Linked DNA regions of Homo sapiens. The protein of the gene in region 1 interacts with the protein of each later gene in a pairwise test. Each region holds a gene or a part of one and is shown on either strand. Other genes may lie near its edges.

The links. The genes of interacting proteins can lie anywhere in the genome.
Region 2: the proteins of RNF8 (region 1) and PPCDC interact in binary tests that used the Homo sapiens proteins (3 or more experiments, as listed by UniProt).

What each region holds. Positions count from the first base shown.
Region 1 is NC_000006.12:37,370,848-37,378,042, reverse strand, and holds part of RNF8 (E3 ubiquitin-protein ligase RNF8), read right to left. Parts: intron 6,532-7,195; coding exon 6,469-6,531; intron 3,424-6,468; coding exon 3,334-3,423; intron 1,118-3,333; coding exon 1,010-1,117; intron 1-1,009. UniProt on the Homo sapiens protein: E3 ubiquitin-protein ligase that plays a key role in DNA damage signaling via 2 distinct roles: by mediating the 'Lys-63'-linked ubiquitination of histones H2A and H2AX and promoting the recruitment of DNA repair proteins at double-strand breaks (DSBs) sites, and by catalyzing 'Lys-48'-linked ubiquitination to remove target proteins from DNA damage sites.
Region 2 is NC_000015.10:75,019,064-75,026,775, reverse strand, and holds the start of PPCDC (phosphopantothenoylcysteine decarboxylase), read right to left. Parts: upstream 3,187-7,712; 5' UTR 3,150-3,186; intron 1-3,149. UniProt on the Homo sapiens protein: Catalyzes the decarboxylation of the cysteine moiety of 4-phosphopantothenoylcysteine to form 4'-phosphopantotheine and this reaction forms part of the biosynthesis of coenzyme A.

The DNA of each region.
Region 1 (7,195 bases):
GGATTACAGGTGTGAGCCACTGCACCTGGCCTTCTTTTTAAAGGAGTCTGAATAGCACTGTCATTTAGCAACTTGAATTTAACATCTGTGGTCTAAGGTGAACTGGTCACAAACAGCAGAATTTGTCAAATAAATAAATAAGCCAGTGCAAAAATATGATAGGCTAACAAATGGTAGAGGTTTCATTTCCATAAGGAGCCTCAGAGTCCCTGAAATATATTCAACTTGGGCCGTAAATTCCCAAAGTGACCACATTTTAATGACGTTTACCCCCTCGTTTAAAAGGTTGCACTATAAGCATATTCTCGGCATAGTGCCCATTCAGAGTAAAGAAAGAATAGCTTTTATTGAGCAGCTTTATTCTGATACTTCCAAAATCTAATTTGGCCCTGTTTTCTCCTCAACAACAAAGAGATAAAGGCTTCATTGCAGCTCAAAATGTTAATCATACCAAATAAACATTTAAGAACAGATGAAATGCCAAAAAAGGACAGTGAAGGGAAAGAAGATTATAAAAACAAATAAGAGGTGGTCATCTCTAGAGGTGACTTTGAAATCAAATAGTTATAAGTTCCTGGAAGAAAATCTCTTCAGAATGTTCCCCTATAGTAGAAGCAGCCTGTGTAGCCCAGGCTTCATTCAGGGTTGGGAGAATAAGAAGGGGTCGGCTGGGTGTGGTGACTCACACCTGTAATCCCAGCACTTTGGGAGGCTGAGGTGGGCAGATCACCTGAGGTCAGGAGTTCGAGACTAGCCTAGCCAACATGGCAAAACCCCATGTCTACTAAAAATACAAAAGCTTAGACAGGCATGGTGGCATGTGCCTGTAAGGGACCCAGCTACTTGGGAGGCTGAGGCACAAGAACTGCTTGAGCCCAGGAAGTGGAGGTTGCAGTGAGCCGAGATTGTGGCACTGCACTCTAGCCTGGGTTGACAGAGTGAGACTCTGTCTCAAAAAAAAAAAAAAAAAAAAAAAAAAAAGAAGGGGTGAGCAACTGTTCATAATTACCTCAATGAAGTATTCTGAACAAATAATACATTGGAGCTCATTCTCTAGCACATCATTCATGTGGCTAAGAACTTCTTCCTTCTGTGCTTGCATCTTCTCCTTCTCTTCCTGCAAGACACACAATCCTACCTGTCATTCAGAGAACCAACAAAAATGCAAAATGGGACAGGGAGCAGGGTCAATTATTTAGAAGAGGATTCAGTCTTAATGAGTGATTCATTCTGGTGCAGCAACATTAAGAATAGAACACTTTCCCTAAGGCTTATTGTTTTTCAATAATTGTTTTCTAATACAGAGCACTAACCTCCTTTCTTTCCTCTCCCTACTTGCTATGGTCTGAATGTTTGTGCTTCCTCCCAAATTCCCATGTTGAAACTTATTTTCAAACGTGATGGTATTAAGAGGTGGGGCCTTTGGGAGGTGACTAGGTCATGAGGGCTCCATGCTCATAAATGGGGTTAGTGGCCTTAAAGGGGCCCAAGGAGAGCTCATTTGCCCCTTCCGCCATATAGGGACAGACATGGCAAGACTCCATCTACGAATCAGAAGACAGCCCTCACCAGACACCAAACATGCCAGCATCTTGATCTTGGATTTCCCAACCTCCAGTACTGTGAGAAATAAATTTCTGTTGTTTTTAAGCTACGCAGTTTATGGGTCTTTTTTGTAGTAGCCTGAATGGACTAAAACACCACTTTTTCAGTATTTGCATTGCAAATTCTGTCTCCTTCCCCAAAATTAATCAAATGAGAAAAATGCAGGTGACATACTAACCACACCAACCACCCAAGACCAGATGGGACATTAAGTAGTTTATAGCAAGCTGTAGTTCAGACATTACATAAGATTATCCCAAACAATTAAAAACTCACTGGACAAGAAAAGAGGCATGAATAGTCCAGAGGCAGGAAACTTGAATTAGTTATAAAGTTGCTGTGTTCTTTGCAGCTGCCTTTTCTGTAAAGTAAGGTACACCTCTGGAGGCAGAAGGCTGGAGACAGGCCTCTTGAATTACCTTCAGGCTCCATGCTCTATGATACCTGCCACTTCCCACTCCTGCAGAGGCCTGCAGTACCATCTCCCCGGCTTTCCCCAAGAGGTCAGACTGCGTGTGGACACACTTTTTAAGGAGGCTCCTACGTATGCTCTCTTGAAGCAGACATTTATTTTAGCACTTCACCCCCAAAACAAAAAGCATTAAGAGCCCCTGAGGGGGAGAGGATAGGCCATTTGAGGTATATTTGAGTGGCTGGCTCATTTTTAATTGTTTTATTTTCTTTTCCACTCAAAGCAAAGACTGGCAGACTGCTTAGGGCAGTGAAGAAGGTCTGGACCCATTTCTAACCATAGTCAAATTCCCTGAGAACTTATGAATCACTGGGTTTAAAAAGATGTGGCAGTTTCTTGGAGGTTGGAGAGGAAGGTATTATGTGATTTAAACAGGAAATCAAACCAGCTAAAACAAGTCCCTCCTTCAGTTCTAGGTTGGTACATGGAGGGGGTGGGATGACAGATGCAGTCAGACTCAGGTATTAATTTCAAGTCAGAGGTTGCAAATTGGTGGCCTGTGGACTGGATCCACCCTGCAGACTTGTTTAGTTTGGCCTTCATATTAAAACACACACAAAAAGCTGAAGTTGTTGCCAATATTTAAAATTTGGGATATTTCACTTAAACATTTGGACTTTCATCTGCTGTGGAAAAATCAGAAGATCTGACAACACTGGGCCTGCACTTCTGGATGGCAACAATTGGCTGAGCAGAGAAGAGTTGCCTCCTGGGATGGGGGTGTGGGCAAGTACCCCATCCAATAAGCCATAGCCCGCACAGCTCCCTACTGTGTTCTTACATTCAGGCCACTTCACTCACTTTGATTACCAGTCTGGCCCTGGTGGGCATTTAAGTTTATAACCCCTAATTCAAGAGTTCTCCTGATTTGACATGGGAAGAAACTGCATTAAGTAATTCACTTTACTTTATGTAATTCAAATTACATAGTTCAGGAGGAACTATTTCTTGACTACAATATTCCTCAGTCTGTATCAGTGACACACTCTGAAGGAGTACCCACCATAGACAAAGGACTAGAATACAGGATGCAAGTGCCTTATTCCCAGCATTTTGCTTCTGAACAAGGGAAGGAAATAGATGTTGTCTGACAGGCAGAACCTGCTATAGGCCTCTATAATTTTATAGATTATCTCCCCAGAGGCAAGGAGCAGCCATAATTTCTCTCTTTATTTTCCCTAGCAACCCTTGCACTGTTGAAAATGCTGAGTTGCATGCACTAACCAAATTCTAAACTTCCATCTTCTTTCCAGTACCTTGGTCTGCTCTAATTCTTTGTTCTTGGCTTGAATGATTGCTTCAAAGTCCTTCTTGCTGCGATTTAGCTCTTCCATTAGAGCCCAATGCTGCAAAAACATAGCAGATACATACTCAGGATGAACTACAATGCATCCTTCCTTTTAGCCACAAACATGCCTGTTCTCTCCCTCTAGTTAGTGACTTTGTGGTTCAGGGATCGATAAATTGGCAATTTCAAAATAATACCTTTATTCCATTGGGCTATCTTACCTACCTGCTGCTTTTTTCAGGGGAGAGGGCAGTTAGGGAAGGCGGCCACCAAATGGACTAGGGCCTCTAAAACTAACCCAACATTGGTGGCCATCCAAGTCAACTGAAGAACTTTCACTGTGTCCCAGAGTCTGCTTCTATAGGTTTGGCTTGGAGCCCAGAAATGTGCTTTTCTTTTTTTCTTTTTTTTTAAAGCCACCCAAGTGATTCTGGGAACAGTATTTAAGAACTAGTAAGTAATTAAAAGCTATTCAGAACTGGAAGCAGCTTTTATGAAATAATCAGGAGGAAATGGGAATCAGCAGAATTAGATAGTCATTTTTATTGAAATAAAAAAGATTTTTAACCTATTTGTTCTACAAATCACATATTACATGCTCAGACAATGCTGCCTGAACCCTGCCAGTGTTTTCTGGAAGAAGGCACACCCAGGAGCTAACAGCTCATTCATTGTGACTAAATGCCTATGCTGAATGTCAAGAGGTTCCACATATATGAAACATAATTTATGAGTTCTCTCATGCTTAAGTATAGCTTATACTTTAGAATCTCACCTCAAATTCTTTTTAAAAGAAGGTGGAGTAAAGGTAAGTATTTTTGAAAAGATATTATTCAAGAACCAAATTTTAAAATGTGTGATCTCCTGACAAAAAAAAGCAGTTATGTCAAAAGGCCTGGGTCTTCAACTTGACACACTAATTAGATATGTGTATTTTAACTTTCTCATCTATAAAATGGGAAAATATGGCCGGGCGTGGTAGCTCATAATACCTGTAATCCCAGCACTTTGGGAGGCTGAGCCGGGTGGATGGCTTGAGCTCAGGAGTTTGAGACCAGCCTCGGCAACATGGTGAAACCTCATCTCTACCAAAAATACAAAAAAATTGTCGGGCATTGTGGCGCGCGCCTATGGTTCCAGCTACTCAGGAGGCTGAAGTGGGAGGATCACTTGAGCCCAGGAGGCGGAGGCTGCAGTGAGCTGAGATTGCACCACTGCACTCCAGCCTGGGTGACAGAACGAGACACTGTCTCAAAATAAAAATAAAAGGAAATGGGAAAATAGGTGCCCCCTCCTCCCTCAGTGTTCATAAGAAAATAACAGGTATGAAAAGCATTCAGAGAAGTTTTTTGAGCTGTATATAAACACATCTTTTTATTTTCTTTTCCACTCAAAGCAAAGACTGGCAGACTGCTTAGGGCAGTGAAGGTCTGGACCCATTTCTAACTATAGTCAAATTCCCTGAGAACTTATGAATCACTCGGTTTAAAAAGATGTGGTAGTTTCTTGGAGATTGGAGAGGAAGGTATTATGTGATTTAAACAGGAAATCAGTTATAAAAGACCATTATAAAAACAGTTTTTATAATGGTCTGGTAAAGAACAGCTTTCAAAAGTATCAGCATGGTGGAACAAAAAACCACCACTGCATGAGAGTGGCATGTCCCCCAGGCATGATGGTATAGAACCATGACCTAAAAGTATCACTTTTTTTTGAGACGGAGTCTTGTTGCCCAGGCTGGAGAGCAATGGCACGATCTCAGCTCACTACAACCTCCACATCCCGGGTTCAAGCGATTCTCCTGCCTCAGCCTCCTGAATAGCTGGGATTACAGGCATGCGCCACCACGCCCGGCTAATTTTGTATTTTTAGTAGAGACAGGGTTTCTCCATGTTGGTCAGGCTGGTCTTGAACTCCCTACCTCTGGTGATCCGCCTGCCTGGGCCTCCCAAAGTGCCGGGATTACAGGCGTGAGCCACCGTGCCCGGTCTAAAAGTATCACATTTTAAGCTAATAAATGCATGGCCAAGTATCCCATGCAAAATGATAGAGTGTTTTCCTGTCTCAGGAGAGGGTGCAGGGTACTCAGTGATCCCTCAGGGATTTCCAACTAGCAGAACCACATTCTTTTTCAATTTCAAAACAATGTCTGAATATTAACTTAATAATGTTCCAAATGGGAAACATGCCTACTCTCCCACCCTAGAAAATAAACAAGCTCAAAAAATAAAATTCTAAAAAGATTGAATTAATTTTCATCTAATTCTTTCCAAAGCTGTTTGTGCAACCCTCAAGGAGATCAAGGCAGGCACCCTGTCATGCTTACAATACTGTATGACTGTTAGCACTGTTAAGGTTGGGAAGTAGGTTTACGATAAAAGGATAAATTCCCCTGAACAAATTCCTATGTGATTTGCTCACTCTTTCCAATGAGATTTGAACCATCCTGACTAAATGGCACTAAACTACTAATCATAATACATAAAAGGTAGAAGACATAGTAGGTTTTAAAGATGCAAAAGAGCACACAAAAAAATAATCAAATGAGAGTAGTCAGGTTAAATTAAATAAATTACAGGCAATCTTTTAGGAGAATTTTAGTCCTGTTGAGCTTTACCTTTTCAATAAATTGATATGTGTTGTTGATTGTTAAACTGCACATTCTCAACCTGGCCTAAAATGCTTAACTGGAACATTCCCCAATTGTTTCTGGTTGGCTACAGCTCAGGAACATTGCGGTAACAGAGGCCTTCACGGGCCCTGGTGGCCAAGTCATACCTCACATTTTCCCTCTGCTGCCCTCACCTTTCTAGAAGTGGAGCCACTTCCCCAGAGAGCCTCTTAACTGCTAAAGCTCCATTCCATCTTCACCAGAGCAACTTCTGCTCAGACAAAGATGTAAGTTTTCATGCTGAGGTCTGGCATGTTTGTAAGGCTCCAAATCTCTGATCTGATGGTGTGAGCAGCTGCCACCTGCTCTGTTTACAGACTGGGGATGCCACAGAGGTATGGGCTAAGCAGCAGAGGCAGCCAGTGGTCATGTGATGCCTGTTTGCTCCCCACTCCACAGCCCACTATAATCTTAGTACTATGGCAAAGTTACCTCCTGCAGAGCCTGGGCCAGCTGTTGCTTCAGGTCCTTTTCTCCTTGGGCTATCTCCAAACCCTGCAAAGCCAAAACAAAATGGAAGGTTTCTCTGCAGGGAAAAGAAAAAAAGGAACACAATCCAGCAACAAGCAGAGCAGACCAGCTAGTATGAGCATCTGGAAACAACAGGGGTGAGGGAGCAGGTGGAAAATCTCCTGTTTTACTTCAAGCTGTTGGCAGTAAAGAATTTGAGCAGTTATCTGCTCAAATACTGCACACTTCAGGACTGTCGGCTTTAAGCCACCAATTGGGTTGTTCTGGAAATACTATGGCCTAACAGTCCAAGCCTCCTTCATGGACTAACGCCATGATTCCCAAAAGGATGTAAACTGAGAACTTCTGAGCCCCCAAATACCTAAACTCAGATGTAATTCCCAGTGCTGGCACTCACAACATCTAGCATGCTTCTTTTCCCTCTACTCTGGCCATCTTGTCTCTCATTCTGAGTCTTTACCACTTCAGTTTATACACTGCTCCTCTGCTCCTCCTCTCTCCTTGCCTGAGCTTATGCTGTATTTCCTCATCAGCCCCCTCCAATGTGGAAGCTTTCCAGGTGATCATTAACCTATATGTCCAGCACCTTCCAAAAGAACTTCTGGGCCCTTCTGTCCTTAAGAATTACCTACCCATTTAATATGCCAACTTGAAATTGTTCTCTAATTTACTATATTGACTGAAAACT
Region 2 (7,712 bases), on another chromosome or scaffold:
GGGCTCTCCTTCCAAGACAGAAGGTCCTAGAAGATGCACTCAAAAAAGAATCAGCATGGCAAGGGAAACCCAGGCAGCTGCCCAGGAAGCAGCGCTGGTGAGTTGTCCAATGGCTACCTCCATGGCTGAGCATCCACAGGGGCCTATCTCCTCTTCACTCACAGGCCCCTTGGCTCTCTAGCCTCTCTGCCCAGGATTTGCCTTCAGCACTTGAGCACAACCCACGTGGGCTGAGGATCATGTTTGGCTGCATTATCCCACTTCTCAGCAGGGGTTAAGCACAGGCTGGTTCCCTAGGGCAAGATCACCCAAAGTTTGATTTGCCAGTAATCTCAATGTCTGCTCCACTGCAGGGCCCCAACCAGGGCAATGCTTGGCCAGAGTTGGAGAACTGAGTTTACCCCAGGGAGTGGGGAGCCCTGTTAGAATCTGACAAGGTACAGAAGGGCTACCAGCCAGCTTCTTCCCAGAACACATCATTGGTAGGTGATGGAGGCACATTCTTTATTCTCCAGGGAAACCTACCTGCCAGATCGCAAACCCTGACCCTGTCCCACCCTAGCCAACTGGTGCTAGGATAGGTAGATTCCTGCAAAACCAGAAGCCAAATTTTATCTCTGAGGCCCCTGAACCTCCTCCACATCAAGCTGATCTCATTCCTAGGAAACAGGTTACAGAAAGCAGTCAGTTAAACTTGGGGCAGGAATCTGTATTAGTGACTTCAACTGCTTCCCCACAGCAGGCACTATAGTCCGAAATACAGTACTTAGCCTGCTTAGCAAAGCTGTGCTAAGGATCAAACCTACCTACCTTCCTAAAAAAGAGGGTGTGTGTGTGTATGTGTGTGCTTAATATACTTGAAGAATAGAAAGTGGATCATTTAACCAACATTTGGAGGCGAGGTCCAATCAGTTCAACCTGAGAATTCCAGGAAGGGTGATGGCTGGCAGGATTCCTTCATTTGCTTGCAAAGAGGATCAAATTCCAAACCAGTAAGTCTATTACTGTAACCAGAACCTGTTGGAGTCACCTATTTGCACAGGTAGCTGTAGTACCTGACTTCCCCGGGCTCTGCTGAATTCACAGGAACTCCTGAGCAGCAAAAAGAGTTGGCAAGTGGGCAGGTTATAGGGCTACACGCTTTGATTACTGAGCCTCAAGATCCCAGGGCACTAGCCAAGCAGGTAAGCCACAGCCAGAAAAATGGCAGCTTCTCTATCCTCCAGAAAGACAGGGACAGACAGAGCAAAGAGCCTCAGCTTGTGATGTTTAAGTCTCCTCTGATGAGTTTAATTCAGGGCAGAGTTTTAGGTTTCAGGGATACCTGCCAGTCCCTATATGGGCAAAGGTGGAGCTGGCACAGAACCAGACTAAAGACAGAGCAAGGAAAGCAAGGCCAGACAGGGTATACGTTCAAGCTCAATACAGGAAGGATGAGAACTGAGCCTAAGACAAAGCAGAACCAAACAAGGGAAGTGGGTGGTGGGTAGGCAGGGATCCAAGATCCATTATGAGCCTGAATCCTTTAGCCTAACATCAAAGCCCCTCACTACCGGCTGCCCAGGCTTCTGCTCCAGCTTACACCTGTAATCCCAGCAATTTAAGAGGGCAAGGTGGGAGGATTGAGCAAACCCAGGTACTCGAGACCAGCCTGGGTAACATAGCAAGACCCCATACAAAAAATTTAAAAGTTAGTGAGGTGTGGTGGCACATGCCTGTGGTCTCAACTACTTGGGAGGCTGAGGCAGGAGGATCGCTTGAGCCTAGAAGGCTGCAGTGAGCCATGTTTGTGCCACTGCACTCCAGCCTGGGTGACAGAGAGAGACCATTTCAAAATATAATAATAGTACCACAAAAAAAAAAAAGTGTGTAGCTATTTACATAGCATTTACACTGTATCAGGTTTTATAAGTAATCTAGAGATTATTTAAATTATATGGAGGGCGTGGTGGCACGTGCCTGCAGTCCCAGCTACCTGGGAGGCTGAGGTGGGAGGATTATCTGAGCCCAGGGAGTTCGAAGATGCAGTGAGCTATGATTGCACCACTACACTCCAGCCTGGGAGACAAGAGTGAGACCCTGACTCAAAAAAAAAAAAAGAAAAGAAAAAAGAGTATACAGGAGGGTGATGTGGTGGCTCACACCTGTAATCCCAGCATTTTGAGAGGCCAAGGAAGGAGGATAGCTTGAGCCAGGAGTTTGAGACCAGCCTGGGCAACATGGTGAGACCCTGTCTCTACAAAAATGAAATAAAATAAAAATTAGCCGGGTATGGTTGTTTATGCCTGTGGTTCCAGCTACACAGGAGGCTGAGGCAGGAGGATCCCTTGAGCCCAGGAGGTCGAGGCTGCAGTGAGCCATGTTCCTGCCACTGCACTCCAGCCTGGGTCACAGAATGAGACCTTGTCTCAAAAAAAAAAAGTATACAGCAATCCCCTGCGGATACTGAGGGATAAATGTATCTAACACACACACTCACACACGTGGGCTACTAGAAAGGCAGTGACTGCGAATTGCTACTTCCCAGCCACTGTGAGAGATGTGGAAACCCCTGCTCCAGGACAACCACCACTTCCCCAACTTGGCAACCTCTCCTGCTCACCATCTAGCACCTGCTTCCAAATACTTCAAGGACAGCAGGAAGTTCTTTTCTGACAAGATTTGGCCTAATTTTTAAATAGCACTCAGCACTTTTTGGCAGGCCTAGGGCTACTTCCAACATCCCATGGCTTTCCTTTTTTAATTTTACCAACTTTTTAAATACACTTTGTACTTTGGGCAGCCCGGGTAAGCGTTCAGTGTGAGGAGCTGACACGGCCATCATTTAAACTAGATTAAACGACACTGGACAAATAATCGCAGAGCAGCACAAAGTCGGGCTGGACGGGTACAGATGCAAACCCTCCACTCAGGGCTCGGGGGTCCCTCCTGCTCCAGGCGGCCCCACCCGTACAGCCGGGAAAGTGAGGTCGCACAGATGGACGGCCGCCTACCCACGCACAGTCGCAAACAGAGCTTCATGGGCACACAGGGGAAAATAAGGACACACACAGACAGCCGTGGACCCACGCTCGCGGACACAGCTCCCCGAACCTCCCCTCCCGCGCCGCCGCGAGAACCCAGCTTCCCAGCCCCCTTCCACTGCTCACCCGCGCCAGGCGCGTCTCGGGGCCGCTCCCAAATATCGCGGTATCTCTGCCGCTCTCCCGCGGAATCTGACTGGCACGCCTCACGAGAGCACCGGGCTGGCTGTATGTCGCGCAGCCTTCTGGGAGCTGTAGTCCACTTCTCTGCCTTCCGGGAGTTGTAGTCCACTGGGGAAATCCTGGAGCAAACCCTGGCCCTGTTCTTTGTATTGCTGGGACTCTCGATAGGGGCTGGCATAACTGTCCGACCTCCTTTCCTCACTCCTATCAGCCCCACACACACTGCTTGTTGCTTGGGGCCTTTTTTTTTTTTTTTTTTTTTTTGCTGTTGTCCCAGGTTTATTGAAAATATTACAGTATCTCAAAAAGATTCAAACAGCTTCCACGTGGCGTTTTGAAATTCATCCCCACTGTTGGCTGAGTGACCTGCAGGTTGGACAGACTGCCAAAGTCCAAAAACATCAGCATTTCCTTAATGTCAGGATATGTTAATACTTCAATGATTTCCTGATCCAGGGCTGAGACCTCAGGAACATGATTATCTCTCCTTTCTCTCTTCTCCTCCTGCAACTTGATGCAGATACCTCTCACTGAGCGCTTCAAATCAGCTTCATCACATGCATGTTGTAGCCTGCTATCTTGTTGGGGAGCTGTTTTTTTTTTTGTTTTTTTTTTTTTTTTTGAGACAGGGTCTGGCTCTGTCACCCAGACTGGAGTGCGCAGTGGTGCTATCTCCACTCACTGCAACCTCCACCTTTTGGGCTTAAGCCATCCTCCTATCTCAGCCTATGGAGTAGCCAGGACTACAGGAGTGCACCATCATGCCAGACTAATGTTTGTATTTTTTGTAGAGACGGGTTCTCACTCTATTGCCCAGGCTGGTCTCAAACTCCTAGGCTCAAACAATCCGCCCACCTTGGCCTCCCAAAGTGCTGGGACTACAGGAGTGAGCCACCACGCTCGGCCCTGGGGAGCATTTTGCTGGAAATAATGGTGATCTCCTTGCACATGTGTTGTTTGTGTGGAAGTTGCTGCCCGGGTGTGTGTATTACTTTTTTATGACGAAGTATAGAAAAGGGCTATCTTCATGGTATTAGTGTGAATGGGGCCCATGTTGGCAGGTCCTTAGTAAAAGAGGGCTCGTGGCACTTAATATTTACCAAGCCTCTTCTATTTTAGGTGCACAGGATACAGAGATAAATCAGATGCGTCCCTGTTCTTGAGACAAACAGGGACACAGAAAATGACAGGGTAAGATCCTCCATGAGGAAGCAACACCTCTAGGCAGGAAAGCCTTCTTGAAGGAGTGACTTGAAATGAATCTTGAAGGACAGCCAGGAGGTTAGATAGAGGATCCCAATAGCGATCCAGGTGGAAGGCATCAAATGGGCAAAGGGAAGGCGGCAGAAGAACACACACTGGCATGCTTCCCTGCCCCCTTCATTTTCTAGCCTTCACAGGCCCCAGGAACCTCTGTATTCATTGAGGTGGCTGAACCAGCTGCGGGTCCCCTGCCCTGAGCTGAGGTGGGGCCTCTGCTCTACCCCCGCCCTTAGCCGCAGTGGACCATCTGGGCCAAACCATCCCTTACGCAGGGATCCAGCCGTGTCTTTTTTTTTTGAGATGGAGTCTTGCTGTGTCGCCCAGGCTGGAGTGCAGTGGTGCGATCTCGGCTCACTGCAAGCTCCGCCTCCTGTGTTCACGCCATTCTCCCGCCTCAGCCTCCCGAGTAGCTGGGACTACAGGTGCCTGCCACCTCGCCCGCCTAATTTTTTGTATTTTTAGTAGAGATGGGGTTTCACCGTGTTAGCCAGGATGGTCTCGATCTCCTGACCTCGTGATCCACCCGCCTCAGCCTCCCAAAGTGCTAGGATTACAGGTGTGAGCCACCACGCCCGGCCGATCCAGCCTGCTTCTTCTACTTCCTCCTCCCAAGGCAGGGGGCCTAGGTGGCAATTTCATCACCTACTGAAGGCTGCCTCAGAGAAGGAGCCACACAGGGTCGTATAGCTCTAGGTCTCGGGGAATGACAGACCACAGATCCACCCACCCCCCATACTTTCATGCCCCTGCCCCACAGCCCGCTGTGAGGCTCCACGCAAGTCCACAGGAAGACACATGACACAGCAGAACACACAGGGCCAAATGTTCCCCTTTATTATGGTTCACTCAGTTACCAAAGACAGACACATTGGCTCAGGCAGCTCAACTGCCAGCTGGGGAACATCCAGCTCCAGAAACAGGGAGCAGCAGCGGCACCAGGAGAATGGCAAAGCAGGTCACTGGGACCCCAGAACTGACCTGGGCCCTCCTTCACCCGACCCCAGGCCAGACCTTCCTACAAAGATGAATGTGTGCCCTGCCCCCACTTCTCATACTGGTTCTCTCCCCGGGAAAGTGCATAGTTGCCTGGAGATGCAGCATCCCAGGGCCTGAACAAGCTGGGCCACACACCGGGATCAGGCTTCCCAAGGGTAGAGCCAGAGCATGGCCATATAGGTCCAAGCCAAAGAGGCAGGTAGGACAGGAAACTGATTGGAGGTAACATCCAACAGGTCATGGATGCTAGGCAGGGAGCTGGATCACAGGCCTCCTGGAGCTACCAGAGAGAGAAGGGAAAGGGAGCCAAAGTTCTGGGGTAGGGGAGAGGAAGGGAAAGGGAAGAAGGGCCTAGACCTAGGTACCTTTTCAGGTACCAGGGACTGTGACCATTGCTCCCAAGAGAGAAAATGGGAGAGGGGAGAGGCAATTATATTTTGTGCCCAAACCTAAAGGACCATCAGGAAGAGAATTTCCAGAGGCCCCTGGCTCAGGATGGCCTGTAAGCCTAGGTATTGGGTTCCAAGCTGAAGCCAGGCCAGAGTAGCCAAGTGGGGTTTGGATTTTTGTCCAAACAGCTCAGGCAAGCTTCTGGTGGGAGAAGGGAAGGTGGGAAATGGGCAGATGCTCTTTGGGCGAGAACCCACTCCCCTTCAGGCCCCGCACACAGCTAGAGCCTCTACCAGCCATGTTCTCACACTGCTTGGAACAGAACAGCCCCACGGGCCTAAAACCACTCTCCTGAAAGTGGTAGGGAGTTCCGACTGGGTGAGGACAAGCCAAGACCAAGGCCTGTAGGCAGAAGGGAGCAAGTTACCTTGATTTGGAAAACAAAACAAAACTAAAGCCAGAGAGCCTCCCCTCCCACCCTGCCTAACCTGAAATCCCATTCAGGCTATTGTGCTTGCAGCCAGGACTGGGCCTGTGCTTCTGCTTGGGCCCTGAGTTCAAGTGCCCAGAACCGCCCTGTGACCAAGAGCAAGCCAGGGTGGGGGAAGGCATGCTCCCCTCTCACTGGGCCCTGCCTGCCTTCTCCTCTGACCTTCCCTCCGTGCCTAGCCCTCTGAGCCCTGTCCTACCAGATCCAAACAGAACAGCTACTGCTTCCAGGAATCCAACGGTCACCGAGAGATACCTAAATGCCTCACTGTGCTGGAGCCAGCCAGACCTTCCCCAGGGACCAATCATTACTGACATGCCCTCTGCTCCAGCTGTGCCTTTACATCTGACAACTGCCCAGCATGTCCCAGCTCCTCAGGGAAGGCAGTAAGGCAGATGCCACCTGGCACATGGTGGGGTCAGGGTAGCAGAATCAAGCCACAGCAACTGGGGGCATGGGGAGGAGGCAGAGGGACATAGGCAGAGGGGCTCAAGGGGGCTCTGGGGAGAGAAGGAGGAGAAGGCAGGGGAGAGAAAAGATGAGCCTGCCCCTGCAGATCAAACTCTCAGGCCCAAGCAGACTCATCCTTGCATTTTCATCCCCTGGGGGTCAGGTACCCAGGTGGGCTCTGCACCCCCAGCTGTGTGCCCCTCCTACATCAGGGGTAAGGCCCAGCTCCCCATCAGCTTCCTTGAACTGTAAATCAGATTAGATTTGGGGATCTGGGCTCAGTCTCAGGAGCAGATAAAACTGGGACACTCAGCCTTGGGGAAGACAAAGAAAAGCCACATAGGAAAGAGATAGACAGACCATGGGCAAGGGAAGATTGCACAGGGAATGTGACATCAGGGAACAGATGAGGGAGGAGGAGGCTGAAGGAGGCGAGGCCTGGAGGGATCAAAAGAGCAAGGGAATATCCCTGGCCTGTACCCACCCTCCCACCCACCACCAAGAGTGCTAAGTACTGTTACTTCCCAGGAAGACTGAAAGTAGAAACAGTTCCAGCTCATAACCCTAGGAAGGGGCCAGTCTTTCTGCTATGCCTCCCCTGGCCCCGTGAGGGGTCCCTGGGCCAGGGTCAGAGGGGCCAGAGGCAAGAGGGGCAGGTGGAGGGTGGGGGTGGGGGCTGGTTTAGCTCTAAACACACATCTAGCACCACAAGAGACCTCCACTGCACACTATTTCACGAGGGGACACAGACACAGCTACTACCGCACGGGACAGCTCCACGTGCAGCCCACAGCTGAGTGCCAAGAGCAGAATCTGAAAGGTGGGGGCTGGGGTACAGACATATACATATATATATATATATAACTCTGGTCCTTTGTACAAAGTAGGGAAGGAGAAAAGGGAAGGGGGAACCCTGC